4 linked regions of the Homo sapiens genome follow. The protein of the gene in region 1 interacts with the protein of each later gene in a pairwise test. Each region holds a gene or a part of one and is shown in the gene's direction. Other genes may lie near its edges.

What was found.
Region 2: the proteins of PNMA5 (region 1) and FSD2 interact in binary tests that used the Homo sapiens proteins (3 or more experiments, as listed by UniProt).
Region 3: the proteins of PNMA5 (region 1) and CEP57L1 interact in binary tests that used the Homo sapiens proteins (3 or more experiments, as listed by UniProt).
Region 4: the proteins of PNMA5 (region 1) and DZIP1L interact in binary tests that used the Homo sapiens proteins (3 or more experiments, as listed by UniProt).

What each region holds. Positions count from the first base shown.
Region 1 is NC_000023.11:152,986,886-152,991,501, reverse strand, and holds the end of PNMA5 (paraneoplastic antigen-like protein 5), read left to right. Parts: coding exon 1-1,250; 3' UTR 1,251-2,678; downstream 2,679-4,616.
Region 2 is NC_000015.10:82,795,008-82,803,830, reverse strand, and holds part of FSD2 (fibronectin type III and SPRY domain-containing protein 2), read left to right. Parts: intron 1-1,192; exon of another isoform or gene 1,193-1,287; intron 1,288-7,464; exon of another isoform or gene 7,465-7,581; intron 7,582-8,823.
Region 3 is NC_000006.12:109,167,699-109,175,933, forward strand, and holds the end of CEP57L1 (centrosomal protein CEP57L1), read left to right. Parts: 3' UTR 1-6,720; downstream 6,721-8,235. UniProt on the Homo sapiens protein: Centrosomal protein which may be required for microtubule attachment to centrosomes.
Region 4 is NC_000003.12:138,111,639-138,120,474, reverse strand, and holds the start of DZIP1L (cilium assembly protein DZIP1L), read left to right. Parts: upstream 1-4,866; 5' UTR 4,867-5,147; intron 5,148-6,994; exon of another isoform or gene 6,995-7,086; intron 7,087-7,974; exon of another isoform or gene 7,975-8,111; intron 8,112-8,836. UniProt on the Homo sapiens protein: Involved in primary cilium formation. Probably acts as a transition zone protein required for localization of PKD1/PC1 and PKD2/PC2 to the ciliary membrane.

The sequences.
Region 1 (4,616 bases):
TGGAAATTCAGGACACTGTGAAGGCAGGCTTACAGCCCCTGTGCGCATACAGGGTCCTAGGGAGAATGTTCAGGAGGGAAGACAATGCCAAGGCAGTCTTCATTGAACTGGCTGACACTGTCAATTACACTACTCTGCCCAGTCACATACCAGGAAAGGGTGGCTCCTGGGAAGTGGTGGTAAAACCCCGTAACCCAGATGATGAGTTTCTCAGTAGACTGAACTACTTCCTGAAAGATGAGGGCCGAAGTATGACAGATGTGGCCAGAGCCCTGGGATGTTGCAGCCTCCCTGCCGAGAGCCTGGATGCAGAGGTCATGCCCCAAGTTAGATCCCCACCTTTAGAGCCTCCGAAAGAAAGTATGTGGTACAGGAAACTGAAAGTGTTTTCGGGAACTGCTTCCCCTAGCCCAGGCGAAGAGACCTTTGAAGACTGGCTAGAGCAGGTCACTGAGATAATGCCCATATGGCAAGTGTCTGAGGTGGAGAAGAGGCGGCGTTTGCTGGAGAGCTTACGTGGGCCTGCTCTGTCAATCATGCGGGTGCTCCAGGCCAACAATGACTCCATAACTGTGGAGCAGTGCCTTGACGCCCTAAAGCAGATCTTTGGGGATAAAGAGGACTTTAGAGCCTCTCAGTTTAGGTTTCTGCAGACCTCTCCGAAGATTGGAGAGAAAGTCTCCACTTTCCTGCTGCGCTTAGAGCCCCTGCTGCAGAAAGCCGTGCACAAGAGCCCCTTGTCAGTGCGCAGCACAGACATGATTCGTCTGAAACATCTCTTAGCTCGGGTCGCCATGACCCCCGCCCTCAGGGGCAAGCTGGAGCTCTTGGATCAGCGAGGGTGTCCTCCCAATTTTCTGGAGTTAATGAAGCTCATTCGAGATGAAGAAGAGTGGGAGAACACTGAGGCAGTGATGAAGAATAAGGAGAAGCCATCAGGGAGAGGCCGGGGGGCCTCCGGTAGACAGGCAAGAGCAGAAGCCAGTGTCTCTGCACCTCAGGCCACCGTGCAGGCAAGGTCTTTTAGCGACAGCAGCCCCCAGACCATACAGGGAGGCTTACCCCCATTAGTGAAACGCAGGCGGCTGTTAGGCAGTGAAAGCACTAGGGGAGAAGACCATGGCCAGGCCACGTATCCCAAGGCTGAAAACCAGACTCCAGGCAGGGAGGGGCCACAGGCTGCAGGAGAGGAGTTGGGAAACGAGGCAGGGGCTGGGGCCATGAGCCATCCCAAGCCCTGGGAAACATAGGCTCAGAAGACCGAAGCACTCCTTCCCCTGGCAGGCAGCAGGGACATTTGAACAAGGGGAAGGGGCAGCTTACACTAACAGGGAACTTGACTGGGGCAGAGGGACAGGGAAGCCAGGTCGAGATCAAGCCCCCTTACTTTCCACCAGCTGGAAGGGACTTCACCAACCAAGACCAAATAGCATCTGGTTCAGTGGGGGCCGGGCCCATAGCCCCTAACAGGTACAGGAGACACAAGCGGGGAACCACTACACTTAGCACATGGGGTGCCTGGGCTTCAGATGGGGACCCCAGCGAAGCAGGGGCTGAAGAAGGTGTGGCTGGGGGCTCTGGCCTGGTCCTCTGGACACCCCCAAATATCTACCCTGTGGACTTTGAGCTGAGCATGCCCACTGGCACCCAGGCCACGTGGGACCTGGAGGAGCCTGCCTGGGGCCTGCCTCTGCCAGAAGGAGCCAGGGCTGCTGAGGAAGAGCTGTGGGGCAGAAGTGAAGCCCCGCAGGGGAGGCCACAGGGTCCAGCCTGTCTTTAGGATCATCTACACTGCATGAGGGGAGCCCCAGGAAGGCAGCATTCATAAGCCCCTGCACCAGTGAGGAAGAGAAAGAGGAGGAGAATTAAGAAGAGGATGATCGGGAGGAGGAAGAGGAGAATAAGGAGGAGCAGGAGGAAGAGGGGGAGGAGAAGGAGGAAGAGGGGGAGGAGGAAGAGGGGAAGGAGGAGGAAGAAGTGTAAGAAGAGAAGAGAGGATGTGTTGGGGGTGGGTAGTTGTTTTTGGTTTGCGTCATCATCAGGCCCGGGCTCTGCTCACTGCTGTTCCGTGTCAAGAACTCCACCTCTGCTTTGCCGGTGTAGATCTCGGCCAGTGGCTGCTTGTTCTCTTGGGGATGTGTGTGTTTTTATCTGAGCAGCTCCTTTCCAGAGTACCCCAGCGCAGTTCCAGGAGACGGTGGGAAGGAGGCATGGCAGACGCTCACCTTGTGACTGTGACCTCGACTGCAGGAGGACCAACCAGACACGGGAAGGAGCAGGGCTGCCTGAGGCTCCCCAGGAAGCTTTGTGCTTTGGCGTTCCACCCCTGCTGTTACTCGTGACTCAGTTTCCTCAACTTGGTGGGGTGTTCCCTGCTATGTTTTCCAGCATCCTGTGACTGTCCTGTGCAGTCTATAGGGCAGGGCCCTGCCCCAGCGGGTGGGCTCAGGAGGGGGTTCCCTGAAGCGAGTACACATTGCCAGAGCCCACCATCCTGGCAAGAGGTGGATCCTGGGGCCCTATGGAAGGAGGGATGTGGTGGGGGGGGCCACACTGAGGGAGGGGCCGGGGACTTGTGACCTGTAGTGGCTGTTTGCAGTTTCTCTCTGTGTTAGATTCCCTTTTCTTCAGCAGTTTCAGTTCATGTTTCTCTTCAGTAAATTTTGTTCAGTGTTCCAGTGGTGTCTTGCCTCTGCTGTGTGAAACTGGGGTGGGAGGTGGTCTGCTGGGGATGGGGCCACAGTGGCCAGGCTGACATCGAGGTGTGTGTGGGGCAGGGTCTATGAGGGCCTGTGGGGTGCCTTGGGCTGCATGGAGCCTGGCAACAGGATGCTGGTGGTCATGAGCAGTGACTGGCTGGGTACCAAAGGCACTCCAGGTGTCCTCAGGAATAAGTGACTTGGACATTGAAGGCTGGGCAAGGGGCAGCAGGTGGGTCCCAGGCCCCTGATCCCTGGCAGCACTGTAGGGGTGTGGCTCAAGGCTTCCGGAAGGGTCAGAGAGGCCACGTGTGCAACCAAGGCCAGCAACCGAGGTCAGAGAAGAGCCCCAGGAGGGCCTGGACAGGCAGTCAGAGGCCCTGTGAAGAGCTGTGTGCAGGACTCGGGGTGGGGTAGGGGCTGGTGTGTGCCCATCCTCCCAGATCAGCCCGCAGGTGGCCAGCCTTGGCCTAGCCACTGAGGGATGTTTGGGGACAGTGTGTGTGTGATGGCCAAGGGGACAGAGTGTGGGCGAGAAAGGGATCCCAAGTGCTCATGTCTTGGGGAGGGGGAGAGGAAGGGCGGGGGAGCTGCACTTCATCCTGGGTCCTGTCCTGCTCCCTTCCCAGTGTACTGGGAGGCGCTCTACTCCTGTGTCCTGGGAGCAGGCAGTGGGCCATGAGCAGGAAGCCTAGATGGCCCTGGGGAGTGACCCCTTTCTGTCCTGCATCCCCGAGGCCCTCTGAGCCCTGGATGCTGCCTGAGGAGGGCTCCCTCAGGATGGACGGCGCTGCTAATCCAGACACCCCTCCTTCAGCACTGTGGCCAGAGGGGCAGTTCTTGGTGGGGGCCTGAGGATCCTGGAACCCGCCCTCCTGAGCCCTCCTGGGACTGGCTCTCTCTCCCAACAGGCCAGGGAGCTCGCCACAAATGGAGGGTAGTCCTCGATCAGCCATTTAACTAGCCCAGAGTCTGTGGGCGACAGAACTGGGACAAGTGATAGGCCCCTCCCTGCACATGTGTGGGGAGGGGACGGGATCATTGACTTGGACGTGGCGAGGGTCTCCCGGGGCTCACTCAGTCTGTGTCCACACACTTCCTCCGGCTGTTCTGGAGCACAGAGCCTCCGGCCATCCCCATGGCTCAGATGATAGCCAGGCTCCCCCAAAGCAGCCTCAGAGCCAATGCTGGGAATGGGTGGCTGCCCACCTGGGCTGAGGAATCCTGGATCTAGGCGACCTGTCTGCTTGAGCGGAGCTGCAGTCAGCAGGTCTGCAGGGCGGCAGGGGCCCTGGGAGACACTCGGCATACACAGGCCAGTGCAGGCATGGGAGGGGTAGTTTTGCGGGGCTGTCGGGGAGGGGCAGGGGGCGGCAGGTCTCTGGGGCTGGGCCTGCAGCCTCCCCGGCCTGAAGGTGCTTAACCGGTGTCTCAGGGACCCTTGTAGTGTGTCCCATCGGGGTGCCCTGCAGGCATGCCTGGGGCCCCCACTGTGCTCTGTTCTCCCTGCCTTCTTCAGGCTGGGCACAACCCCAGCATGTCCGTCCCTTGTGTCTCAGCAGGGCCAAGTCAACTGCTCACTTTCCAAGGGCCCCTCCAGATTTTGGGGACAGGGCAAGAGGAGAGGGCATAGAGCTTGGCTGACCTTGCCAGGGCCTGTCAGGGCTCCTTGGTTTTCCCTGTTCAGAGTGGACCTGTGTGTGCCGTGATTCCCAAGCAGGTGTGAGTGTGAGTGAGCGGGTGTGTTTGAGCGTGTGCGTGTGTGTGTCAGTGTGAGCATGTGCATGAGTTTCTGAGAATGTGTGTGAATCCAAGTGACAGAATGTGACTGCATCACTGAGCGTGTGTGAGTGGGAGGGTGTGGGGGAATGAGGCTGTGCCATTGAAGGTGAGCATGCATGTCGCTGAATGTGTGTG
Region 2 (8,823 bases), on another chromosome or scaffold:
AATCCAGAGGGCAGTGATCTTGGGGAGCAGGGAGAGGGGACAGGAAAAGGGATATTACTTAGAGATTCAAGAGGTAGAGTCAGAATCAGCATGAATTAGTTATTAATTAGATTGGGGGTGTCAAGGATGAGCTTCTGGTCTCTGGTTTGGTGCTGGAGGGGGTGGATGTCATGCTCTCATTCATGGATAGTAGCAATGCAGTGGACTTCATGGAGGGCCATGTTGGATGAGTATGGGGTTTAAGAAGCAGTGGTGAGATAGGGAAGAGTGGGAGCTCTCAGCAGGCAGGACAGTCTGAGCCAGGGCCTAGGGTGAGTCTCACATGGAAGACCCTGAGCGCGGCCAGAAGGAACAGAGGGTTACCGCTAGGGAAGGTGGGGCTGCTTGGGGAGTATAGAGCTATGGCATGGGGTGGGGGATCCCTGGTGCCCAGGAGAGTTGGGACTTGCCAGTAATGGAGCCCTCAGAATGCACGATGTGCAGATGTACCACTTCTGCCTGAACAAAGCAACATATGCTGTATAAGCTATGCTGCTATCCTGGGCAGGGACACCCCTGAGGAAGGACCATGGTGCGCGCAGTCAGCAGACTGTAGAGACAGGAGGGTTTCAAGCAAGATTTCGAGCCACAGAGGGAAATAGTGGGATTTTGGCACAGACTCTGTGCTTTAGGAAGGAGAAGTACTCTGGGGTCCCAGGAAAGAGGGAAAGCAGCGTCTCTGAGAAGTTGTGCATAGCCCCAGATGGGGTAATAATCCCTTAGTCACTTGTCTGGAGCCTCCTTGACACCAGCAACTGTGTCTCATCCATTGTACCCCCAGCGCCTAGCCCAATCCTGTTCTCTTGAATTCACACCTCACCAACCCCATGAACATTCAGAGCTGGGGCAATGAATGATGCCCAACACCACAGACCATGCATGTGGTAAGGTTAGCCAGGGTCACAGAAGGACCTAGGGCTTCACCAGATGACCTCTGCATGGGTGCAGACTTTCCAGGTCATTCCATGTTGCCCCATAACACACTAACTCTGCCATGACCAGGTGGAATCTATAACGCCCCAGGAGCAGAGGCAGCAACCAGGAGACCTGGTGGAGTAGAAATGAGGAACTGCTCCTAAGCTGGGGAGACCTGCTGCTGCTGTTGCTGGCTGATAAGAGGCCCATAGAGAAGAAGCATGACCCTCCCATCCTCTCAGGTTCTATTTCCAGAGGTACTTGTGCTCAGCTTCATTCTCCTACTCTTCCTCCCCCATGATGCCAAGTAAGAGCTCAACCCAGCTGTTAATGGTAAGACATTATTTCTATGCAATGTGGGTAATTCTGATTAGCTGGGCAATCTGACATACAGGAGTGTGAAGGCAGGATTCAGGGCCTCTCAGGGCAGAAGGCTCTGATTACTTTGTTGAGAATCATCCACTACAACAAGGGATTCAGGATGAGAGAGGAGGCAAAGTGGTGTTTCCATAGCTGGAAGGGAACTTTGACCTTGGGAACCATCGGAGGGAAACATGGGCTAAAGTGCAGGCAATGTGCATGATACCCAGGAGGAGCTAGCAATCCCTTGGGTCTGGTATGTATGGAGGGGGAGACTTGCTGGTCCAGCTCAGCACTGGTTTTGCTGGGATGCAGATTCAGTGTGAGAAGAAGCTGTGCCCTAGTTCACTTGAAGCCACACTTCTCCAGCCCTGTGTACAGGCTGCATTAGTGAGGATGAGCCAGGACTGCCCCAGCCAGAGCCTAATGGTAGACAGGTTTCTTAGTAGTAACCTCCCCATAAAGAAAACTCAATTCTGGAGTCTTCATAAATCATATGAAGGCAAAACACTGGCTGTGGAGGCAAAACACTGGCCCTGGTGCCTGGAAACCACTGGCTTTGCGATGCTGCCTCTGGAAACCTACCTCCACTCATCCTTCTCTCCATCTAGGGGTGGACCTGATCCTGTTTGTGGTCCCAGGTGGCATGGACCAAGACATGGTGGAGCTGGTGCCTTGTGTGCTTTAATCCTGCATGGTCATGGTATCTCAGCCTCAGCAGGTGTTACTGAAGTGATATTTACCACTATCTTCCATGTGAAGAGTTTTGGAGCATTGGAGAGTGGGAGAACTCCAAGAGTGATGTTCCCAAGTCTTAGAGTCTCAGGAGTAAGGTTTCCTTATGAGGATCCAGATCTCTGAAACCAATAACATACATGGCATTGGGTTAGGATAGCAGCATCTTTGTCACCTAATGACTGCTGGAAGTCGACCTCTCTGTGTGGTGCTGATACAGTACCTAGAAAAACAGCATCCCGTGGACACTTCAGAGTGAAGAGGAGAAGAGAGAAGGTCCCCAGGGGCTCACCAGGGCTGAGTCCAGGTAGTCACACTTCCACATCCCACCTCCCCAACCCGTCTACCATCAGAGAAGGCTGGTTGGTTCTTGTGTTTTTGTCTTGCTGTCAGAAAGAGCCAGGGTGAGCCCATGGAGGGAAATGTGAGGGATTTCGAAGGCAGGGTGTAGCCACGATTAACTGGGGGAGTGATAGTTGGTACGGAGCACCAGATGAAATGACTAAGGGCCCCTCTGGGTTAAGAGCAGGACATGGTTCCATCACTGTGATCCAGAACCTCCTATTCTTGGATCAAAATGTTTCCAGCATCCTGGGTTCTTGTAATCTCCCAGGATAGGAATCAAGAGAGATCACCAGACACAGCAGCATAGAGAAAGTTTATTTTAGCTTGTGCACAAGGAAGCTGGCACTGAAGAAGAAAAGAATGGGCTGCTCCTTGAGGGCAGTAGTGTGTGGGTTAGTTTTATAAAGGCTTTCTATGGGGAAGGGTTACATTGGGGCAGGTGTAGGAGAGTTTTTCTAGTGCTTGCACAGTGGCTCAACATGCTTCTTCATATATTATATGTAGCATTAGCATTTTAAATCACCACCCCAGGGGTGATTTTTAGCATTAAAATGAAGAAGGGGTAACTATAGGTTGGAGTTTAAATGTAACTGCACATTTGGGTCTCCAAGGAAGTCCCTAGACCCCCGAAATAGGAGCTTATGGTTATAGCAGTTATAGCTTCTTGGGTCTTCTGTTACTGATTGGCTGGGAGTTAGATAAGCAAGAGCCTGACTGAGGGGCTTTTTTTTTTTTTTTTTTTTTTGAGACAGAATCTCGCTCTATCCCCCAGGCTGGAGTGCAGTGGCATGATCTTGGCTCGCTGCAACGTTTGCCTTCCAGGTTCAAGCGATTCTCATGCCTCAGCCTCCCGAGTAGCTGGGATTACAGGCACCCACCACGACGCCCAGCTAATTTTTGTATTTTTAGTAGAGACGGGGTTTCACCATGTTGGCCAGGCTGGTCTTGAACTCCTGACCTCAGGTGATCTGCCCACCTCAGCCTCCTAAAGTGCTGAGATTACAGGTGTGAGCCACTGTGTGGGGCCGACTGAGGGGCTTTTATCATTTTCCTCCAGACCATCTTAACATAGGAACCTAGCTAGCCTGCCTGTCTCAAATCCTTCCTAAATGGGCCAGATGTAGAACTGTGTTGGCACCTCTGCTTTCCTCATCATTACTCCTAGCCTTTTCCTGTGCTTGCAGGACAAAACTTGGAGGGCACTGGGGCAGGCAGTGAGCAGAGCCTGGCTGGTTGTCCCCAGGAAGGAAGGGGGAGGTCCAGGCCATAAGGGCAAGGTGTCATCTCTGACCAGAGACAGAGTTCTTCTCTGAGGACGCAGGGCAGAGTTCTTCTTCCCGAGGCCATGGGTAACTTGGCCTCCACAAATAAAGGCTGAGGAAGAGGGATGAAACTGGAGGCTTACAGCAGGAATGTCCAGGGAGGGCAGAGGGAAGGGCAGGCAGTCAGTTCAGGACATCACAGACATTCATGGCCAGAGTGTAGAGAGGCTGAAGAAGGTGGGTTTTCTGGAAGACTGTCCCAACCTCTCACGGGCCAGCTGGGCATCCAGGCATCTTCTACCTTACAAGGTAGACCAGCAGAATAGGCACCATTTAGAGATTTAGAAATGCAGTTTTCCAGACCTCACTCTAGACTTTCTGACTCTACGTTTAACCAGAACCCCAAGGCGACGTGTGTGCAGGAAAGTTTGAGAAACCTTATTGAGAGGAGGAGTTCTGGCAGGGCTGGTGGGAGGACACCCCACTAACAGGCAGCATGCAGGGGCTGCCGTGGAGGTGACGTCACACCACATGGTGAGTTGGGGAAAGAGAGAGGCAATGAGCTCCATCTGGCAGTGCTGAGTTTGAGGGGGCTGCTGGAGGGGGCTGCTCAAGACAGCAGCTGCACCTCTGAGCCTCTGCCTCTGCATGGGGCACAGGTTAGAGCCAGAGACATGGATTTGGAGCCCTCAGAAAAGACGGGGACATAGAAGCTGTGAGACTGGATGAGATCACCTAGAGCAAGTGGAGAGTGGGAAGAGGGCCTAGAATGGAGGTTAAGGGGATGCCTGCATATAAAGAGCAGCCAAGGGGAGGAACTTGGCAGAGATTTCAGCAGTCAGTGGCCTAGGGGAAATCCCAGCTGAGCCGGGGGACACAGAAGGGTCAATAGGATTGAATGGCATGGAGCAGTCAGGAGAGCACCAGACAGGGTCCATGAATTTCCAAATTAGGCCATGAGAAAATGTTATATTAAAAGGGCAATCAAAAGTGGAGATAGGCCAGGCGCATTGGCTCACACCTGTAATCCCAACATTTTGGGAGACCAAGGCGGGAGGATTGCTTAAGCAGGAGTTTGAGACCAGCCTGGGCAACATAGTGAGACCGTGTCTCTACAAAAATTACAAAAATTAGCCAGGCGTGGTGGTGCATGCCTGTGATCCCATCTGCTCAGGAGGCTGAGGTGGGAGGATTGTTTGAGCCCAGAAGGTCAAGGCTGCAGTGAGCTGAGATTTCACCACTGTGCTCCAACCTGGGCAACAGAGCAAGACCCTGTCTCAAAAAAAAAAAAAAAAACAAAACAGTGGAGATAGTGGAAAGAAAACTTAATGCCTTTTTAAAAATATAGTTTGGGAAGTGGCTATTAAAAGGACAGTCTATCAGCAGAAGTGACAGTCTATCACTGCAGAAAGTTAAACAGAGCTGATAGGGGAAGCCGACGAACTTGTTGACTTCTGTTTTCTGTGTACAACTGTGGAACAAATAGGGAAGACAAACAGCTGGCTGCTAACTTTGATCACATAAATGGAAGTTAAGGAAAACTGGATCATAAAAGTGATGGATAAGGAAAAAACAGTGCTAAACCATATCTTAAAATATTTTGCTTATTTTTCTCAAAACATTATATATATATGTCATGTTAAAATAGTTTAATAATATTAGTTTTTTTAAAAAAAGACATTAGATTTACCACAATTTTTTAATGGGGGTAGGCATTAGGAACTGGATTGTGATGATGGCTGCACAATTTGGGGAATTTACTAAAAATCATTGAATTGTGCACTTAAAACATGAATTTTCTTCCTTTCGTTCTTTCTTCCTTTCTATCTTCTGACAGGGTCTTGCTCTGTCACCCAGGCTGGAGTGCAGTGGCAAGATAATAGCTCACTGCAGCCTCAATCTTCCAAGCTAAAGTGATCCTCCCACCTTAGCATCCCGAGTAGCTGGGACTGCAGGCACACACCACCACGCTGGGCTAGTTTTGTTTTTTGATTTTTAAATAGAGGTGAGGTTTCTTTTTGTTGCCCAGGCTGGTCTCGAACTCCTAAGCTCAAGTGGTCCTCCCACCTTTGCCTCCCAAAGTGCTTGGATAACGGGTGTCAGCCACTGTACCTGACCTGTAATATTTTTCTGTGCTTGGAAAGTCTTTTGTTGGTCATCTATGATACTTCTCTACAAAAATACAGATGTATAACTTGAGATGAAAGATTTTCTCTTGTTCTCCTGGGACCATACATCTCTGAATATTAAACTCTTTTTTTCTTTTGGATGAAGTTACCAATACAACTTTTAATCACATGTAAGCAAAATAACATAAACATATTACAAATTTTGGTAAATAATAATAATTATTATTGTTATTTTTGAGATGGAGTCTCGCTCTGTCGCCCAGGCTGGAGTGCAGTGGCGTGATCTTGGCTCACTGCAACCTCCGCCTCCCAGGTTCACGCCATTCTCCTGCCTCAGCCTCCCAAGTAGCTGGGACTACAGGCGCCCGCCACCACGCCCGGCTAATTTTTTGTATTTTTAGTAGAGATGGGGTTTCACCGTGTTAGCCAGGACGGTTTCGATCTCCTGACCTCATGATCTGCCCGCCTCGGCCTCCCAAAGTGTTGGGATTACAGGCGTGAGCCACCACGCCTGGCCAATAATTGTTAAATGAAAAATAAAATGGAAATGCATCTCTTAATGAGGTAGATGGAGCTTTTTTAAAAAAAGTTTATTTGTGTATCCATTGATGAAAATTACATATTTTAGACTGCAACAGGAATTAGGGTCAATTGTCTTTCCGCTTTTCATTTTGTTGATGTAAGAACAGAGCAACCTTGCTTAGCTACGTAATCAAACATTGATGGAAATGAAAGTGTTTTATTATAGCAATGTCACTCACATTTTTGAACTCTTTCTGAAATGTGTTTCAAAAAGTACATAGTGATCTATCATGAAAAATTATTTTTAATCATATATTAGCTGACAATTTGATTAGATCCTCCTTCAACTTTATTGAAAGCAAAGAACTGGAAACCACTTAGCTTGAAAACAAATTTTTTCTTATGCATTCATTAATGTCATTCACCCTCCACCATTGATAGCAATACTTCAAATTGTCCTTCCATTTAGTCCCCTGGAGGTGTTTTTTTTTTTTTTTTTTTTTAATTACCAAGCAATGAAATCTTACAGTGCAATGAAATATTCAGGATAAGTGAGAGGTATAGTTTTACTTTTGTAATAAAGAGAAAAAGGACTATTGTGAAAAAAGAATCTACATGAAGCCTCAAATGCTAGTTCCTTCCCAGGCAGAGCAGCTCTGGGAAAGATTAAATATAAAGTTGAGCATCTGGGAGCTGATCCTCCTGAAGCTATCTATACCATGTACCCCTTGGAAAGTCTTCGCATACAGATTCCATAGCCTGAAGAGTGATGGTGGAAATGCCACCCTTTGATGGAGTCTGGAGAGGGAAAGGGGAGAAAGAGAGAATAGCAGCTAGCAGAGAAAGCTGGGTGGAAAGTTTATTTTTAGTCTGGGACAATGAACTAGTCATCTATTGTGGCATAACAAATTATTTCAAAACTTGACAGCTTAAAACAACAAATATTTATTCTCTTGAATCGTTTCTGAGGGTCAAGAACCTGAGAACAGTTCGTCTGGGTGATTGTGGCTCAGAGTCTCTCATGAGGCCTGGTGACCACTTTCCGTTGGTTCTCCTAATACGTCTTATGCCCGCAGCAATGCTGCCAACTTCTTCAGCTCACCTGCCAGCCAACCTTGGTTCACCTGTGTTTCCATATGTTTTTCTTGCTTTTACAGCCACTGGGGACCAGCTCTGGCCAGGACAATTCCGTTTGCCATGATGTGGGTTGAAATCACAACTTCTCCCGGGCGCAGTGGCTCACGCCTCTAATCCCAGCACTTTGGGAGGCCAAGGTGGGTGGATCACAAAGTCAGGAGTTTGAGACCAGCCTGGACAACATGGTGAAACCCCGTCTCTACTAAAAAATACAAAAATTAGCTGGATGTGGTTGCGGATGCCTGTAATCCCAGCTACTTGGGAGGCTGAGTCAGGAGAATCACTTGAAACCAGAAGGCGGTGGTTGAGTGAGCAGAGATCGCGCCACTGCACTCCAGCCTGGGCAACAAGCACAAAACTCCATCTCAAAAAAAAAAAAAAAAAAAGAAAAGAAAAAGAAAAGGAAATCAAAACTTCTTCTATGACATTTGAACTCCCTGTGAAGTTTATCCTGTGTTACAGTTTTTCTCTCAGTCTTAGAGTATCCTTTAGTGTCCTCTTCATAATTACTCTCCTATCATAACTCACCTATCATCTAATACTTTTTTTTTTTTTGAGATGGAGTCTCGCTCCATCACCCAGGCTGAGGTGAAGGAGTGCAATCTCAGCTCACTACAACCTCCGTCTTCTGGGCTCAAGAGACCCTCCTACCTCAGCCTCCTGAGTAGCTGGGATTACAGGCGTGTGCCACCACGCCTGGCTAATTTTTTTGTATTTTTGGTAGAGATGGGTTTTCACCATATTGCCCAGGCTGGTCTCAAACTCCTGAGCTCAAATGATCTGCCCACCTTAGCCTCCTAAAGTGCTGGGTTTACAGGCGTGAGCCACTGTACCTGGCCTAATACTCCTTTAGAGTGAAATGTCTTCCTCTGATATAGCCATAAATGCCTATATTTAGTTCTGATAGACTTGTAGATGATAATCTTCTTCTAACCTCTGATTTATTATCCTACTAGAAAGTTAAGAATTGGAATGTTCATTCTCAGGTTCTGGGGAGGATTTTCTTTGGGGGCGTGTTATATTATTTTGTAGGAAATGCCATTTTGTTATATGGAAAAAAAAATCATAGCTTGAGCTCCTCCAACAAAGTGTTGTAATTTAGAAATTCTTAGGAAACTTCTCATAATGAATCAATTAAAAATTAATAACAATATAGCCAACTCTATGTTGTCTACAAGATACACACGTTAGATTCAAAAATACAAATAGATTGAAACTAAAAGGATAGAAAAAGATAAATCATGTAAACAGCAACCACAAGAAAGCTAGAGGGGCTGTACTGACATCCGAAAAAATGGATTTAAAACAAAAAAGTGTTAGTAGAGATAAAGAGGGATACACTGTCATTAGAAAAGAGCCAATCTGCCTGGCGCAGTGGC
Region 3 (8,235 bases), on another chromosome or scaffold:
AAAAGAAAAAAGGAATAGCCCAGTATTGTTTGTTTGGGGAGGGGCAGGGTGTGGTTCCACCAACTGTGGGCACCAGAATGGTGCTTTCTTTGATACTATGCTAAGAGGAAGAGGTTTGAGAGCCAAGAGTTCTTTATTTGGATATTGGTATGTTTGACTTGTTCATCAGTGAGTATTTATTGATCTCTAATTATTGATCTCAAAATACTGTATTAGCTACTATGGAATTCCGTTTTCAAGTTGCTTATAGTCTTGAGGAGAGATAAGATGTATATATATTTAAAAGGAAGAAAACAGTAAGTGACATGAAAGGCATAATGACAACCACAGAGCAGATGCTCAAATATTTATTTGCCTACTAAATGTTTGTTCTCATCTATCGATAAAGTGCTTAAGAAGTTGGCCTGTTTGTAATTTCTTCATTTTCTATCTATCTTGATTTATATACCTTCACCTTTTTAAATTTTTTGCCTGGTAGCAGTATTGGTCTAGGATTTTCACTCTTTATTAGGCTTCTTGATTGAAGATACCAGTTCCTTTAGTAATTTCAAAATGCCGGCCATAGCCAGTCTATAATCCAATTCAAAGGCATGAGTGGAAAAAGTGGGTATGAAACAATGAAGTAAATGGAGAAGTGGGGGAAAATCAAGCAATAATCACTTAGACTAAAACAGAACAATAAGAATTATACAGAAAGGTTATATTCTAGAGGCCAAGTATTGACTTGCACAGAATTGTGTAAATGATTGCCATTCACTTCCCTTATGAACTTAAGCCACTCAATTTCTGCATACTTCAGCCTCCTCATTGGTTGGATCCAGTCAGTGTTTTTCATAGTACATACAGTCATACCGGTGGATTGTCAAATCAATTTAGCGGGTCACTACCAGCATTTTTTTTTTTTTTTTTTTTTTGAGATTGGAGTCTCGCTCCTTCACCCAGGCTGGAGTGCAATGGTACAATCTCGTCTCACTGCAACCTCCACCTCCCAGGTTCAAGCAATTCTCCTGCCTCAGCCTCCCAAGTAGCTGGGATTATAGGTGTGCACCACCATGCCCTGCTAATTTTTTGTATTTTAGTAGAGATGGGGTTTCACTGTATTGCCCAGGCTGGTCACGAACTCCTGAGCTCAGGCAATCTGCCCGCCTCAGTGTCCCAAAGTGCTGGGATTACAGGCGTGAGCCACCATGCCTGGCCAGCATTTTTTAAATGATATAAAATAGTATTGAAAATATCAGAATGTGGCCAGGTGCGATGGCTCACGCCTGTAAAATCTTAACACTTTAGGAGGCCGAGGCGGGCAGATTGCCTGAGCTCAGGAGTTCAAGACCACCCTGGGCGACATGGTGAAATCCCATCTCTACTAAAAATACAAAAATTAGCCGGGCATGGTGGTATGTGCCTGTAATCCCGGGTACTCGGGAGGCTAAGGCCAGAGGATTGCTTGAACCAGGGAGGCGGAGGTTGCAGTAAGCTGAGATTGTGCCACTGCACTCTAGCCTGAGCAGCAGAGTGAGGCTCCATCAGCAAAAAAAAAAAAAAAAAAAAAGATCAGAGTGCATCACACATAATTAAGGTAGCTTATGTTTTGTGAAACTTTGTGAGTACGGGTTGTCATTTTTAATGTAGCCCTAAATGTTTTTTAGGGAAGAAAAAGTTGGCTTTTAATAAGTATTCAGTGAGAATGAATTTGAAGGGTGTGGAGAAAAGTGGAATAGCCAATTTAAAATAGGAATACTCCCAAGTCCCCTGTTATGGATGTGCCAATCTATTGTTTATCCCAGAAATATTGTTTCATGTGTTTTACAGATAACAAGTCTCATTTTAATCAATACTGTTGCATTTCCTGGTCTATAGAATACAATTTTCAAACACTAGCCAACTTACCTTAGAGAAATACTGGTTTTCTAATGTGGGCAAATAAATACATTCAGTATGAATCCCTTAACAAAATGACCTCATTATGCTACCTCTTGGTAAAATCTAACCAAGCATGAGTCTTATGATTAAGAAAGAAATTTGCTCTGTAGGTGCTTCAGACAGTTTTACAACCAATAAGAATGTGAGATTTGTCGGAGAAAAACTATCTGCATGTCTCCAATCTGAAGAGAGCAAAGATCTGTTATTTGACAAACCCTATTTTTCCGAGCATCAACAGTCAGTGGCACCATGAAAATTAAAAACCTGATAATACCACCAATGTAGTACTCTTTAAAAACATGTCATCTTACTCAGCAATCAACCTGATTGAATATTTTAAAATGAATAAGTGGATAAATATCTTACCTGAAAGATAGCTTCATTAAATAAACTAACTCCTGAGAGGATTTCTTTGGCCTTTAATATCCTATTTAATAGATTTCTTATAACCATATCAGCAAAGCCACTCTGCTCTGGACAATGGTCAGAAGGTAGGAAGAAGTGTTATAGGGTAATGAGCAATAATAAGGCCACCAAATATAATCCCATTGTAATGGGATTCTACCCACTTGTAGAAGTTTATTCACCACTACAAATTACTAAAGTTAACCTAAACAATTAAAGAAAGAAATCTTAGTCTTTAAGAACAGAGGATTGTAAAGTGAGCCAGACCTTCCAATCAGCTAAAATAATGTAAAATAATGTACTTTTCAACCTGACTTGGCTTAATGTAGTTAAGTAAATTTTAGGATAGGTTCTAAAAAACCTTGAGAGGCATTTTGTTGTTGTTGTTGTTGTTGTTAGTTTGCCTTAAAGTTAAATGTACATTGACCTTTGGTATTTCTTAGAAAAACCTGTTACTGAACCTAGTACAGAATGTGAATCATTTCATGCCTGAAATACAAGATTGATGTTTACAGGGCAATTGTCCAGAATCTTGCTGAATTGGAAAGTATTTCACTCTTCATCACTGTAGATCCGTTTAACTTTACAAATGTGTTATTTAAAACATAAACCATTTTGGTGCACAGGAAACCCACTTAAAATTAAATTTTAAAAAGCTCTCGAGAAGTCTGTGGAACATTTATGGTTTTATAACTTACAATTTCTAGCAAAAGTATCTTTAATATCTTACAAAATATTTTCAGAGATAGCTTATCCAAAATATGTAATACATGTGAGAGAATAGCACTGTTGAAATGCTTGAACACATAAAAAGCATTATTGCCTTCATTTTCCCTGAAATGAACCAAGCTACCAATTTAAAGCTGGGAAAGTCAGTACCAGAGTTAAAAACAAGTTACTTTAAAGATATCTGCTTTTACTTTAATCTAAAAAATAATTGATTTTTTAAAAAACTTATTCTATTTTATGTATATAACTTCTCCTTTATAAGCTTAGAAAAATTTATATCAGTATTACATTCTTGATTCTCTCAAGGTATGATTTAAATGGTGGACACTTAAGCCAAAATTTCAAACAGGTTCTTTTTTCTTTGTTCTTTTACAGAATGGCTCTCAAGTCGAAAGAGGGCTGTGCCTTTGGTGTTTGGGTATGATATATTTGCCTGTGATTTCTCATTCTCAGAGCATTCCCATAAATAATGCCACAAAGTAGAGTTTGATTTTTTTTTTTTTGAGACGGAGTTTCGCTCTTGTTGCCCAAGCTGGAGTGCAATGGCGCGATCTCAGCTCACTGCAACCTCCGCCTCCCAGGTTCAAGCGATTCTTCTGCCTCAGCCTCCCAAGTAGCTGGGATTACAGGCATGCGTCACCACACCCGGCTGTTTTTTTTTTTCGCATTTTTAATAGAAACGGGGTTTCACCGTGTTAGCCAGGCTGGTCTCGAACTCCTGACCTTAGGTGAACTGCCCGCCTCAGCCTCCCAAAGTGCTGGGATTACAGGTGTGAGCCACCGCGCCCTGCCTAGAGTTTGATTCTCTTAAACCGTTCTACTAAAATACTATCAGTTTAAACTACCATCTACAGAAATAAAAAACATAAACCACTAAAAGATTAAAGCATTTAGGAGTTTATATGCAAAGAAGTCTTGCAAGGGAGTACAAGCTTTAGGAGGACAGGCTTATCAAATTAAAAAATGAAAAAACCTACAAAATTACCAAAGTCACCAAGTTTAGTTATTCTTTTCATGGTGGAAAACAGTTTCCTCAGATAATCATCATATCAGAGGTCATCATGTATCCTTAGATATCAGCATTGCCAAGACCAGGGATATAGTTATTAGTAATTTACAGGAAAGGCTCAAGGTTTCATTTACATGGGAAATGAGAACTAGACAGTGTGGTGACTGTTTTTGTTGTTAACCTTACCTCAGTGTTTTATCTCGGGTGGTCCCCAAGACCACCTTCAGGATCAGTGATTCACTGGAGGGACTCACAGAACTCAGAAAAGCTGTTAAGTTATGGTTATGGTATATTATAGCAAAAGAATATATATTAAAATCAGCAGCTGAAAAAAGGCACATAGGGCAAAGTCTGGGGGACACCAGGCACAAGCTTCCAGTTGTCCTTCACCTGTGAAGTCATGTAGACAGACCATAATTCTCTCAGCAGACAGACCATAATTCTCTCAGCAACAATGTGTGACAACATTCTTGGAGAATTGCTAACCAGGGAAGCTCCACCAAGCCTTGGTGTCCAGATTTTTTCTTGAGGGTTGGTCACGTAGGCATAGCATGACTGATAGCCCATGTGGCTGACCTTCAGTTTTCAGCCCCTCCAAAGATGGAGCTGATACTACATGGCCTAAGGACTTCACCATTAATCACATTGTTAGCTTAGACTACCTGGTATGGCCTAAGGCCCCCAAGTAAATTAAAACATTCATATCAGGCAGGATAGTCCAAGGACTTAGAGGTTATCTTGAATCTGGACACAGGACAAACATTTCTTTGGAATGTGAAAAGTTTACACAATCAAGACTTGCTATGTTGATCCTTTACTGCGGTATTGTTTTTTGTTTTCTGACCCAAAAGTGATGTGCATTGCTTACCTATCATGGCCTCTGGTTAAGGTGTCAGTCTTGCCTCCAAATTTCCTCCTAAAGCATGGAATTGGCCATAAATTTGCTTAGTGATTTTCTGATTTAGTATCATTAGTTTGATGACTAGTTTTATTATGTGAGTGTGATAAAAGGTTACGCTTAGTATACAAAGACCTTCTTATAAGTCTAGTTAATAAAACTAGGGCCATGTGTTACTACAACATAGGAGTTAACTTTGTCTGGAGGCTTTTTCAAGCCCAAGAGGTTGTCATTTCTTTATGTGTAAGATACTGCCCACATACTATACTGAAGTCAGGAACCAAGAACCGGTCAATTTACCTCAGCCAAGTTGCTTGGACTGCTTTGCTTAATAATGGGTTTGCCATATCTACTTTAATGAGATGTGTGGCATGGTGATGGTTACAAAAGTGATTTGTTAATTATTGCCTGGTAGGAAGGAGAACATGTTTTTTTTGAACCTATGCAAATAGCCACATGTCTGTGAAAAGTAAAGGGATACTTTTGTGTAATATTTAACCATGTATACCATTGTTTGTGTACTTTTTAATTGTGTCATTTTCTACAGTATTATTTTTGCATTTTCCTGACACTGTATTACTTACAAGTTATATTAATAATTTTTATTAATTTTTTTCCTGAATCCTAAAAGGTCAGTTGGAACATGAGACCATTTAAAGAATATTATTTCCTTCCAGTTTATTCAAGGGTGGCCTATTGAGAGTTTGAGATAAAGAAGAAAGGAATCTTTCCTTTCCTTCCCCCTCAGCCCGCCCCCTACCTTTCTTTTTTTTTTTTTTTTCTTTTCAGGGTCTTGTTCTGTCACCCAGGCTGGAGTGGAGTGAATGCAATCAAAGCTCACTGCAACCTCAAACTCTTGGGCTTAAGCAGTCCTCCTGCCTCTGCCTCCCAAGTAGCTGGGACTACAGGTGCATGCCACCACACCTGGCTAATTAAAAAAAAAAAAAAATTTTTTTTTTTGAGGAGACGCGGTCTCACTTTGCTGCCCAGGCTGGTCTCAAACTCTGGGCTCAAGCAATCCTTCCACCTCAGCCTCCCAAAGCTCTGGGATTACAGGCATGAGCCACTGTGCCCGGCAGAATTTTTCTGTGTCCATTAGAAATAGAAATCAGTCACATGCTATGATTTCAATATGTCACTCAAAAGCCATGTGTTGGGGCTGAACGTAGTGGCTCACGCCTATAATCCCAGCACTTTGGGAGGCAAAGGAAGGTGGATCACTTGAGGTCAGGAGTTTGAGACCAGCCTCCAACATGGTGAAACCCCGTCTCTACTAAAAAAAAAAAAAAAATTAGCTGGGTGTGGTGGCATGCACCTGTAGTCTCAGCTACTCATCAGGCTGAGGCAGGAGAATCGCTTGAACCCAGGAGACAGAGGGTGCAGTGAGCCGAGATCATGCCATTGCACTCCAGCCTGAGCCATAGAGTGAGTCTTGGTCTCAAAAAAAAAAAAAAACCTTGTGTTGGAAACCATCTCCAATGAAGCAGTGTTAGGAGATAGGGCCTAATGGATATAAATTACAGTGTCTAAGATGGATACTTTACTCTTTTCTTTTGAGAAGGGAGAGAGTATGTTATGCACTGAGAACTTTTCAGATTTCTTGCAGAGGTCATAATGTTCCAGACAAGCTGGCAGCAATCATTCCCATCCCATCACAGATCCAGGCTTATTTGTAGAATGGTTACACAAACCAAGCAAAACCTTCTGTAAAGTTTCTACCCTTTGCTCTAAAGTTACATAAAAACAATTTCCAAGTTTGTTCACTGTGTATATTTTGTTCTTTTTCATGGTAGATTTGTCTGTTGGAGTTAGATATCCCTAAATAGTGTGTTCAAATGATGTTTTTTTCTGACTGTTCAATCTCCAGCATATTTCTGAGGGAGAAAGGACATTGACTTTGGAGAAAGAAAGCTGTGTAATTACAAATGGACTATTACAAAGAACTATGCCTTCCTTTTTGAGGAGAAAAAAGATGGTTTTTAAAAATTAATACGCAGGCTGGGCGTGGTAGCTCACGCCTGTAATCCAAGTCCTTTGGGAGGCTGAGGTGGGAGGATGGCTTGAGCTCAGGAGTTTGAGACCAGCTTTGGCAACATAGTGAGACCTCATCTCTACAAAAAAAATTTAAAAATTAGCCAGGCATAGTGATGCATGCCTGTAGTTTCAGCTACTTGGGAGGCTGAGATGGGAGGATTGCTTGAGCCCCAGAGATGGAGGCCGTGTGAACCATGATCATGCCACTGCACTCCAACCTGGGAGACAGAGCAAGACCCTATCTCAAAAAATAATAGCAATACACAGAACTACCAGCCTTAGTTTATAACATTAGCCACAGATGGATCAAATGTAATAAAAGTACAAAAAGCGTGAGTCATTGGTTAATGGTAGCAGCTCCAGATCTCCAAGGGCTTCTCTGCATTCCAGTGGCCACAAAAATATTTTTCTTAATTGATTTGAACTCATAGTGGCACAAAAAAATGAAAAACAAGTTTCGTCAATGGTCAGAAGATGAGAAAGAAAGTAAATCAGTGATGTAGGGAGTAATATGAGCAACTTTCCAACCTACTAATGCAACCTATCAATTTGACCAAACTCATGTCTTAAGACCCAGATGCAAAGAAAAGATGTATCTTAGATGACAGAAGATAACAGAATCCTCAAGACAAAAACAAAGTACAATCAGATGTCCTGTCATTGTTGCCTCACAAAGAACGGATCGACCATTAAAATGTGTATTTTCAACATTGCTGCCACCAAAGGAGAAATAAGTGGCTGTTTACAAATCAGAACCAGTGTCAAACGCAGACTTGGCCAGGAAGCAAAAAACATATGAAGAGCCAGAAAAAGAACTTGAATCAACTAGATGAAGACTTTATTGCCTCAAGACTGGAAAATGTATACCTCGAACAGCCCTTGAGTTGCTCTTCATGGACAATGTGGTGGACTTTACCCTGGTTGATGCATACACAAAATCTTAGAGGAATCTACACAATTGTCAAAGAAATATAGACAAAGGATTTAGGGGGGAAAGTTTACTTTCAAGGAAAGTTTGCAAGCAACTCCCAAGTTTTAAAAGAACTGGCTCATCAAATAAAAAAATACAAAAAAAAAAAAAGGAAAACCCACAAAATTACCAGTATTACCAAGTTTGTAGTTGTCCAATCATGGTAGAAAAGACAGCGATTTTCTCACATGATTGTCATAGCCACAAAGATCATCACAGATTTTCATCTATTATCATTGCAAAAGTTGGCAATAAAATTGCTTTTATTAA
Region 4 (8,836 bases), on another chromosome or scaffold:
CAAGGGAATTGTCAGGACCCTGAATCTCAGATGTATCTTCTAAACTAAGTTACAAGGTTAGTGCACTCTCCTTGGTGGTATTGGGGCAGGGATTCTTAATTTAGGGGGCTGTGAAGAGATTTTGGGGGTCTGGGAACTTACTCTTTATTTTTACTAGCTGTTAATCAAAATGTATCATTCCTTCCAATTATGAATGTATGCCACAAACCACAGTAGTATTAGTAGAACCTGTGACTTTGTCATTAAATATTAGTTTTTTCCTATCACATTAAAGTTATTACGGATATCTTGAAATAATTGTTTACACTCTTACTACTTTTAGGTCAGATGCTAGATCTTGCCATTTAATGCATTAATAAACAAAAATGCTATTATTTTACACATTTTCTTATGTTTTCATAGCTATATTTTCAATATTTTGATGTCCTCTGTAATTCTATGTTTTGCTTGGTGCATTTAAAACCATTCTTAGGCTGGGCGTGGTGGCTCACACCTGTAATCTCAGCACTTTGGGAGGCTGAGGTGGGCGGATCACAAGGTCAAGAGATCGAGACCATCCTAACCAACATGGTGAAACCCCGTCTCTACTAAAAATACAAAAATTAGCTGGGTGTGGTGGCAGGCGCCTGTAGTCCCAGCTACTTGGGAGGCTGAGGCAGGAGAATCGCTTGAACCCAGGAGGTGGAGGTTGCAGTGAGCCGAGATCATGCCACTGCACTCCAGCCTGGAGACAGAGCAAGACTCCGTCTCAAAAAATAAATAAATAAATAAAAAATAAAAATAAAAACCATTCTGAGGAAAGGGTGTGGGCTTCATCAAACTGCCAAAGAGGAATCCCTCCTCCAAAAGGCAAAAGCCCAGGCAGGAGGCAGCTGGGGCAGCTCCTTCTAGATCCCACCCGCCCATCACTGCCAGCCAATGAGGGGCCATATCACAGCCACGCCTTAGGCCAGGCTTATCCAGCTCTGCATTTTCATTTTTGCAGAAGGGATGTTTTCCTGAGAAAGGAGGTCTTTTCGGTAAGTGCTCAGACTTCCTTCAAAGTGAACTTTTCAGGGATTGGGCTAGAATGTACGATCTGCCTAAGAAAGTTTCCTCTCAGATCCTGCCAGTTCTAGACATGTCAGAGTGCAGGCCTTTCTTTTGTTGCTAGATTCTTAGATTTTTCAGAAACCAGCAAACCAGATTTTATGTAAAATCCTCCTCTGACTGTATGCCTGCCTATCTATACATCAACGCAGAAAACCCAACAATACACTTTTGACCTAAAATCACCTCAGGGCTCATTAGTGGCCGGCATCCCAGCGCAGGGAGACCTGTCCCATACACCTCAGATACACTTCCCTTCAGGAGAATGGGATCCAGAGCAGGTTTCTAAGGTGTGATGCCAGCATTTGGCAGCAGAGGGCACTCCTATTACAGGCTGTCTAGGCTGTGTCCTATTTCCTGAGGTGTAGGAGGGAGACCGTCTGTGAAAGGGGCTGAGCTGGGTCAGAGGGCGGGTGACTAGTACTGGGCTGAGGAGGGAGTGAGGGGCCATTGGGATATTGAAAATCCATCCTCCTGTCCTCCCACCCAGCAGTTATGGGCCAGCTGCTCGGGGTGACAGGAATGTCTCCTGGACTAGCCAGCTAGGGCCAGTCTCCCTTGGTCTATGCACCTGTCCCCACGGCTGATGCCAGAGCTTGTGTGTGCTACAGTAGAGGTGGGCAGCAGAAATGACAGCTTTCCAGTGCCAAGTGATCTAGTCCTCTAGAGGTTGTTGGTATCCTTGGGACTAAGAAAATAACTTGGCACATGATAGGCATGCAGTAACTCCTCCCTGTGTTGAGTGTTGAACTAAGGCCCAGTAAGGGAAGAGTGTGAGGGTTCCATGCATGAGGTCTTAGTCAGCTCAAGATTCAGGATTTGGTTTTTGGCTAAGGTAGATCTGGGTGCATGTCAAGTCTACTTTCTTACACCAGCCCTGCAAAGGAGGGCACCCTATTTACACATGGGGAAATTGAGGCTGGTGGAAATAACATGCACAAAGGTATCCTCAGAACTACTTTCTGCAAATTTCAGGGATACAGTGGGAAGAGAGCTGAGAAGCAAATGTCCTTGGCGATTTCACAGTGTCAAGTCAGGAGTGCACACCACTGACTTGTAGGCCCAGGGCAGAGCCTACATGTAATTTAGCTAATTTGATTCTAACAACTCTTCTAGGTAGAGTTTACTTTTCCCATTTTACAGAGGAGAAAAATGAAAGGTCAGAGAGGCTACGTGACTTTCCCAGGGTTATGTAGCTTGGGAATGTGGAATGTAGATGTGTCTTTGACTCCCAAGGCCTGGACTCTTCTCTTTGCTCTTGTGGGTGGCAGAAAATCCTGGGGTGAAAAAAGTGCCCTGACTAGGAGAAGACGGCAGGAACAAGATCCCCCATCCGAATACATGGTGCACAGATATCCCAACTTAGTCCTGGTCCCTGCTCCATCCACTATTTTTTTTTAATGTTTAAAAAATTGTGATAAACTGTACATAATGTAAAATTTGCCATCGTAACCATTTTCAAGTGTACAATTCAGTGGCATTAAGTACATTCACATTATTGTGCAACCATCACTACCATTTATCTCTGGAACTTTTTCATCATTCCCAAACTGAGAATCTGTACTCATGAATCAATAACTACTCATTCCCCCTCCTCCAGCCACTGGTAACCACTATTCTACTTTCTGTCTCTGTGAATGGACTATTCTAGGTACAAGTGGAATCATACAATATTTCCAGGTATAAGTGGAATAATACAATATTTGTCCTTTTGTGTCCAGCTTATTTCATTTAGCATAATGCTTTTGCCTTGATCTGAATGTTTGTGTCCCTGCAAAATGGGGTTGAAATCCTGACCCCCAAGGTGACGGTATTGGGAGGTGGGGCCTTTGGGGGGTGGTTAGGTCATGAAGGTAGAGTCCTCATAATTGGGACTAGTGCCCTTATGAAAGAAACCCCAGAGAGCTAGCCAGCCCCCTTCTACTAAGTGAGGGTGCAGTGAGAAGATGACAGCCTATCAACCAGGAAACAGGCCCTCACCAGGCACCGAATCTGCCAATGTCTTGATTTTGGACTTCCCAGCCTCCAGAACTGTAAGAAAAAAACTTCTATTGTTTATATGCTACCCACTCAATGGTATTTTGTTATAGCAGCCTGAATAGACTAAGACAGTTTTCAAGGTTCATTCATGTGTCAGAATTTCCTTCCCTTTTAAAGTTAATATTACATTGTATGGATATACCACATTTTGCTTATCCATTAATCTGTCGATAGACATTTGAATTGTTTCCACTTTTTGGCTATTGTGAATAATGCTATTATGAACATGAGTATACAAATATCTGTTTGAATCCCTGCTTTCAGTTCTTTGGGGTATATACCCAGAAATGGAATTGTTGGATCTTTTGGCAATTCTTGTTTAATTTTTTGAGGAACTACCATTCTGTATCCACAGTAATGGTACCATTTTACATTCCCACCAGCAATGCACAGGAGTTCCAGTTTCCCTGCAAGTCCTTGACAACGCTTGTTCCCATACACATTTGCTTTGGCTGCCTCAAAATGTAGAGCTTGGCAGATTGAGATTGTGGTGGGACGAAAGCCTTTGAAATGGAAAAAAGAGAAAGAGGGAGGGAGAAGAGTTGCGGAGTGGAGAGAGAGAGAGTGTGTGTGAAAAGGAGCTTTTTTCCCACTCTTCCCTGACCCTCATGGGGGCTGCAGCGACTCCTAGAACCTTCAAGCAGCGAGACAGAGGTTCCCTCCACCAGGCGCAGAGCTCTCCTTACACCTGGCCTCCTATTCCCAGCAACTTTAAGGAGATATTTTTAAGTGGCCATGGTTTTATCAAATGCCTATTAAGTTTTTGCCACAAAAGGATTTTATTTAAAATAAAAATAGGGGTAGGTATTTGACTGATGCCCCTTGTGAGTGCTCTAGAGAAGAGGAATGAATACTGACATGTCCTATCTTCCCAGATGCAGAATTGTAAAACAAACATAACTGCTTTTCACATGTGAAAGAAAACTGGCTTAGAACATACTAGCGTTTTCTTTGCCATGAAGGAGTTCACCTTCAGTGACTAAGCCAGAACTACTAGAGTTGCCGGGCCTAGGGACAGGAGACATTGCCAGTGCTTAGCCAGGCTGGCCAGGACTAACCATCTCTGCAAGGAGTCCACAAGAAGCCTCAGGGCAGCCTTTCCCTGCTCCTATCAATTTGAGTTGAGCAACAAACATTTTGACCAAATATCAGCTCTATGGCACAACTCACAGTTACGGTGCCCACAAAACGGAATCTCAGCAAAGCAACTACTACTATGGGAAGAGATCAGGGACTAATATCAGGAGAAAAAATAAGTTTTTCAGTCCTGGGTTTCCAAGTTGGCATCCCCAGGGCAAACCAGCAGGTTGGGAGGGTAGGGGGTGGTGGGTGGGGGCTGCGGAGGGAAGGTGGCTGCTGTCTGTCTGATCAGACCTGGGGCACACCCAAAGAACTCTCCTAGCTTGGGATCCGGTCAGGAAGAAACCAGGACGGTCCCTTTAGGAGGGTGGGCAGGGCTATCTGCCCGGGGGGTGCGGCCGCCCCTGCACAGCAGGCTATCGATTGTACCGGAGGCAGGGTGTGGGGAAACCGGGGCAAGTCCAGCCTCTCAGCAAGGCCAGGAAGCCATTCACTTGGATCCTGGATTTTACTAACGGATTAAACGTGGCATTCCCGCCTTCCCCCATCCGTTACAGACCTAAAAATAGCTCGTCCGAGAGGGGCCGGGAGAGGCTCCACCTCTTCTTGAGGTGGGGCGGGGCGGCTGTAGTAGGAGCTGGAGGCACCAGAGACCCCAAGCCACGAGCTGACCGACGCACCGAGGAGCTCTCTGTCCGCGGTCCCGCAGGTTGGCGGCACTGGAGTGGGCCGGGCAGGCTCTGCCTCCGCCGCAGAGAGCGCCCGGACTGCGTGGGGCTGGGGAAGCATCCCGGGAACGGCGGGCGGTGAGCATTCCGGGAACCATCTCTGGGCTGTCTGGGGCGGTGGAGCAAGTCTGGAGGCGGGACGTGGGGCGAGTATGGGAGCCGCCACCTCGAGACGTCTTCCCGCCGTCCCCGGCTCCAGGAGACCCCACGGTGAGCGGGCCGCGCGGGAAAACTATGCCAGGAATTCGTCCCGGGAGCGGGGCGGGTGGGTAGCTTGGCTGCAGTCCGAGGGATCAGCGATTCGGGAGGTTAAACATTAGCGGGGGCGAACTCCCTGCCGGGGTGCAGCGGGGCGCGGGAGGAGCCGGCTGCGTGCGTCCGCGCTGCCCAGGGCGCGCCCTTCTGGCCCGGCGCGGCCCTGCAGCCCGGCCCCCTCGGCCTGCTCCGAACTGCGGCGCCCAGGGAGGGAAGGACCCGTGCGCGGGGGACGAATGACGGGATGCCCCAAGACTCGGCTTCACTGGGAAGACGGCCTTGGGTTTTTACTTTTTGAAAAAAGAAAAGTGATTTGGGAGGGCTTGATGATCTGAGTGCCGTAGGTAAAGGAGGATTCTTTTAGTAATGAGGTGATTTAAAAGCAATCGCATTGGCATCTTTCGTTCCCCTTCTTCCTTTCCTGGGCTGGACCTCAGCAGGAGGCAGACGTGGTATTTTCATCCTGAGGTGGCTGCGCATAAAGTCCACCGAAGACCTGCTCAGTGCAGGACAGGGATCAGGAGGCAGGGCAGAGGAGGGGGTCCGAGGCTGCCTGGGCAGGGCCTAGTTCACGGAGCACTTCCTAGGGGCCCAGGGCCTAGGCTGCCCCTGCCTGGTCTCCTGGAATTCGATTTCTAACAGGACTTTGGAGAGAGGCCTGGGAAGTATGGGGTGTTCTGACTTGGCTTCTCACACCCTCATCTGCAGATAGGGTGGGTGATCTCTCCCTTCTCAGTTGCAGCCCCTAGCACCTCTCCTCCCCCTCCCGGATGTGAGGACTGGCCAGTGAGAACAATCCTGCTTAGGGAAGGCTGATCCTCCAGTCTAGTGGCTGATAAGGGGCCTTCTGACTGTCTTGGTCAGACACCTCCCTCATCTGGGAATATTTTTTGATACTATCTAACTTGATAAAATACCTCATGAAGTTGTATGCTTCAGGTTGGGAACAGAAACCTGAGTTCATGTGGGCACCATAACTGTGGGTTGTGCCATGGAGCTGATATTTGGTCAAAGGTTTTTTGCTCAACTCAAATTGATAGGAGCAGGGAAAGGCTGCCCTGAGGCTTCTTGTGGACTCCTTGCAGAGATGGTTAGTCCTGGCCAGCCTGGCTAAGCACTGGCAATGTCTCCTGTCCCTAGGCCTGGCAGCTCTAGTAGTTCTGGCTTAGTCACTGAAGGTGAACTCCTTCATGGCAAAGAAAACGCTAGTATGTTCTAAGCCAGTTTTCTTTTACATGTGAAAAGCAATTATGTTTGTTTGTTTTACAATTCTGCATCTGGGAAGATAGGACATGTCAGTATTCATTCCTCTTCTCTAAAACACTCCCAAGAGACATCAGTCAAATACCTACCCCTATTTTTATTTTAAATAAAATCCGTTTGTGGCAAAAACTTAATAGGCTTTTGATAAAACCATGGCCACTTAAAAATATCTCCTTAAAGTTGCTGGGAATAGGAGGCCAGGTGTAAGGAGAGCGCTGTGCCCGGTTGAGGGGACCTTTGTCTCGCTGCTTGAAGGTTCTAGGAGTCGCTGCAGCCCCCATGAGGGTCAGGGAAGAGTGGAAAAGGAGAACACCATGGAATCTGAGAATAAGGCTAAGCTCTGCAGTGGCAGTACTTCAGGAGAGCTCCCAGGTCCCTGTCATCTCTGTTGAGGTCTCTGGAGCTCCCTTGCATACTGTGTGTGCATAGCCTGTTTGCAAACTGTGTGAAGGTTTCCTTGGCAGCCACAACAATTAGCATTAATGACACGCCTGAGCTCCCCCAGTGGGCACTGCTGAAGTTAGCTTGGGAGCCAGGGCAGGTTTGTAAATGATTGCCTGGCAGCCACCTTGGAAACTTGGCTCCCTCAAGTTCTCCTCTTGACTGCATTCTTGAGGAAGCAGAAGAGACAGTAAAGTGGTGATGTTGTTGTTGTTGTCTAGCTGTCAGTTTATGTTAAAAAATAAGGTGTTTGGCCAATTTTGAGGGAGTTATTTTTGACAGATTATTGGTGGGCCGGTTTTAGAAGAACCATAAAGTCTCCAGGGATTGTTTCACAGTGGGATGGCTGTCTTGTGAGGTGGTGAACAACTTGTCACTGGGAGTGTGCAAAGCAAGGGTGGTAGATGGGTTTTCTATATTCTAGATGGGTGTGGGATTGTCCCAGGCAGAAACCAACTCTTAACAATGAAGCAAGTTTGAATGTTAGCACAAATATTCTTTTGGGTCCCTTATTCATAATATTGGTCTAGGAATGGGAAGTTTCCCAAAACCCTGTCAATATATCTAAAGGTGATTAAACAGCTTCAGTTTTCCTAATGACAGTGAGTCATTTCTTCTCTCTCTTTTTTTTTGAGACGAAGTCTCACTCTGTCGCCCAGGCTGGAGTGCAATGGTGCGATCTCGGCTCACTGCAACCTCTGCTTCCCAGGTTGAAGTGATTCTCCTGCCTCAGCCTCCCGAGTAGCTGGGACTACAGGCATGAGCCACCACGCCCAGCTAATTTTTGTATTTTTAGTAGAGACAGGATTTCGCCATGTTGGCCAGGCTGATTTTGAACTCCTGACCTCAGGCGATCTGCCCTCCTTGGCCTCCCAAAGTGCTGGGATTACAGGCGAGAGCCACTGCTCCTGGTTGACAGTGAGTCATTTCTTCCTTGTGTTTTTATTCCCAGATGTGGGAAAAGCAGTCTGCTCACAATTCGTCTGAAAAAAGCACGATGTCCTTGCCCCTGGGGTGTATGGTTTCCAGGTAACATGCAACACTCTCATTTGGCTTTTTGTCCGCCTATCCTAATCAGGACGCAAGCTGTGGAGCTGAGTCGGGTTCAGACAAGCCCTGCTGAAATACAGGGAGAATTTAGAATCCCCAACACTAACCCTGTGGTGATTTGCTGTAAACTCTGTCAGCGCTTGCACTTTGGTCAAGAAAACTCAGGTATTGTAATTTCCATAATGGAAAATAATTTGTATATCATTATAATTATCATAATTATTAAGAGTTTGGCATAATTCAAAAGCTCTGGAGTCAGATAGAACTTGGTTTGAATCTTGGCTTCATTATTTAGTAGCTGAGTGAGCAGGGATCTTAGCTTCTCTGAGCCTCAGTTTCTACATCTGTGAGATGAGACGAACCATAGCCATCTACAAGGCTATATGAGTTTAGAATTACTACTTTTAAAGGCAGGCACAGTGCCTGACATATAGATGTTTGATAAATATTACCTATTATACTATCATCATATCATCATAATCATCTTCAAGTTCCACAGTTCTGCTCCATCTTTTTTTTTTTTTTTGAGACAGAATTTCATTCTTGTTGCCCAGGCTGGAGTGCAATGGCACAGTCTCTGCTCACGGCTGACTGCAACTTCCACCTCCTGGGTTCAAGCAGTTCTCCTGCTTCAGCCTTCCAAGTAGCTGGGATTACAGGCACCCACCACCATGCCCAGCTAATTTTTGTATTTTTAGTAGAGACGGGGTTTCACCATGTTGGCCAGGCTGGTCTTGAACTCCTGACCTCAGGTGATCCGCCTGTCTCAGCCTCCCAAAGTGCTGGGATTACAGGTGTGAGCCACCATGCCTGGCCCTGCTCCGTCTTATAATGCCAGAGCTCTAGGACATCTAAGAATTGGACCCTTAGGGTTCTAGAAAAAGACATGA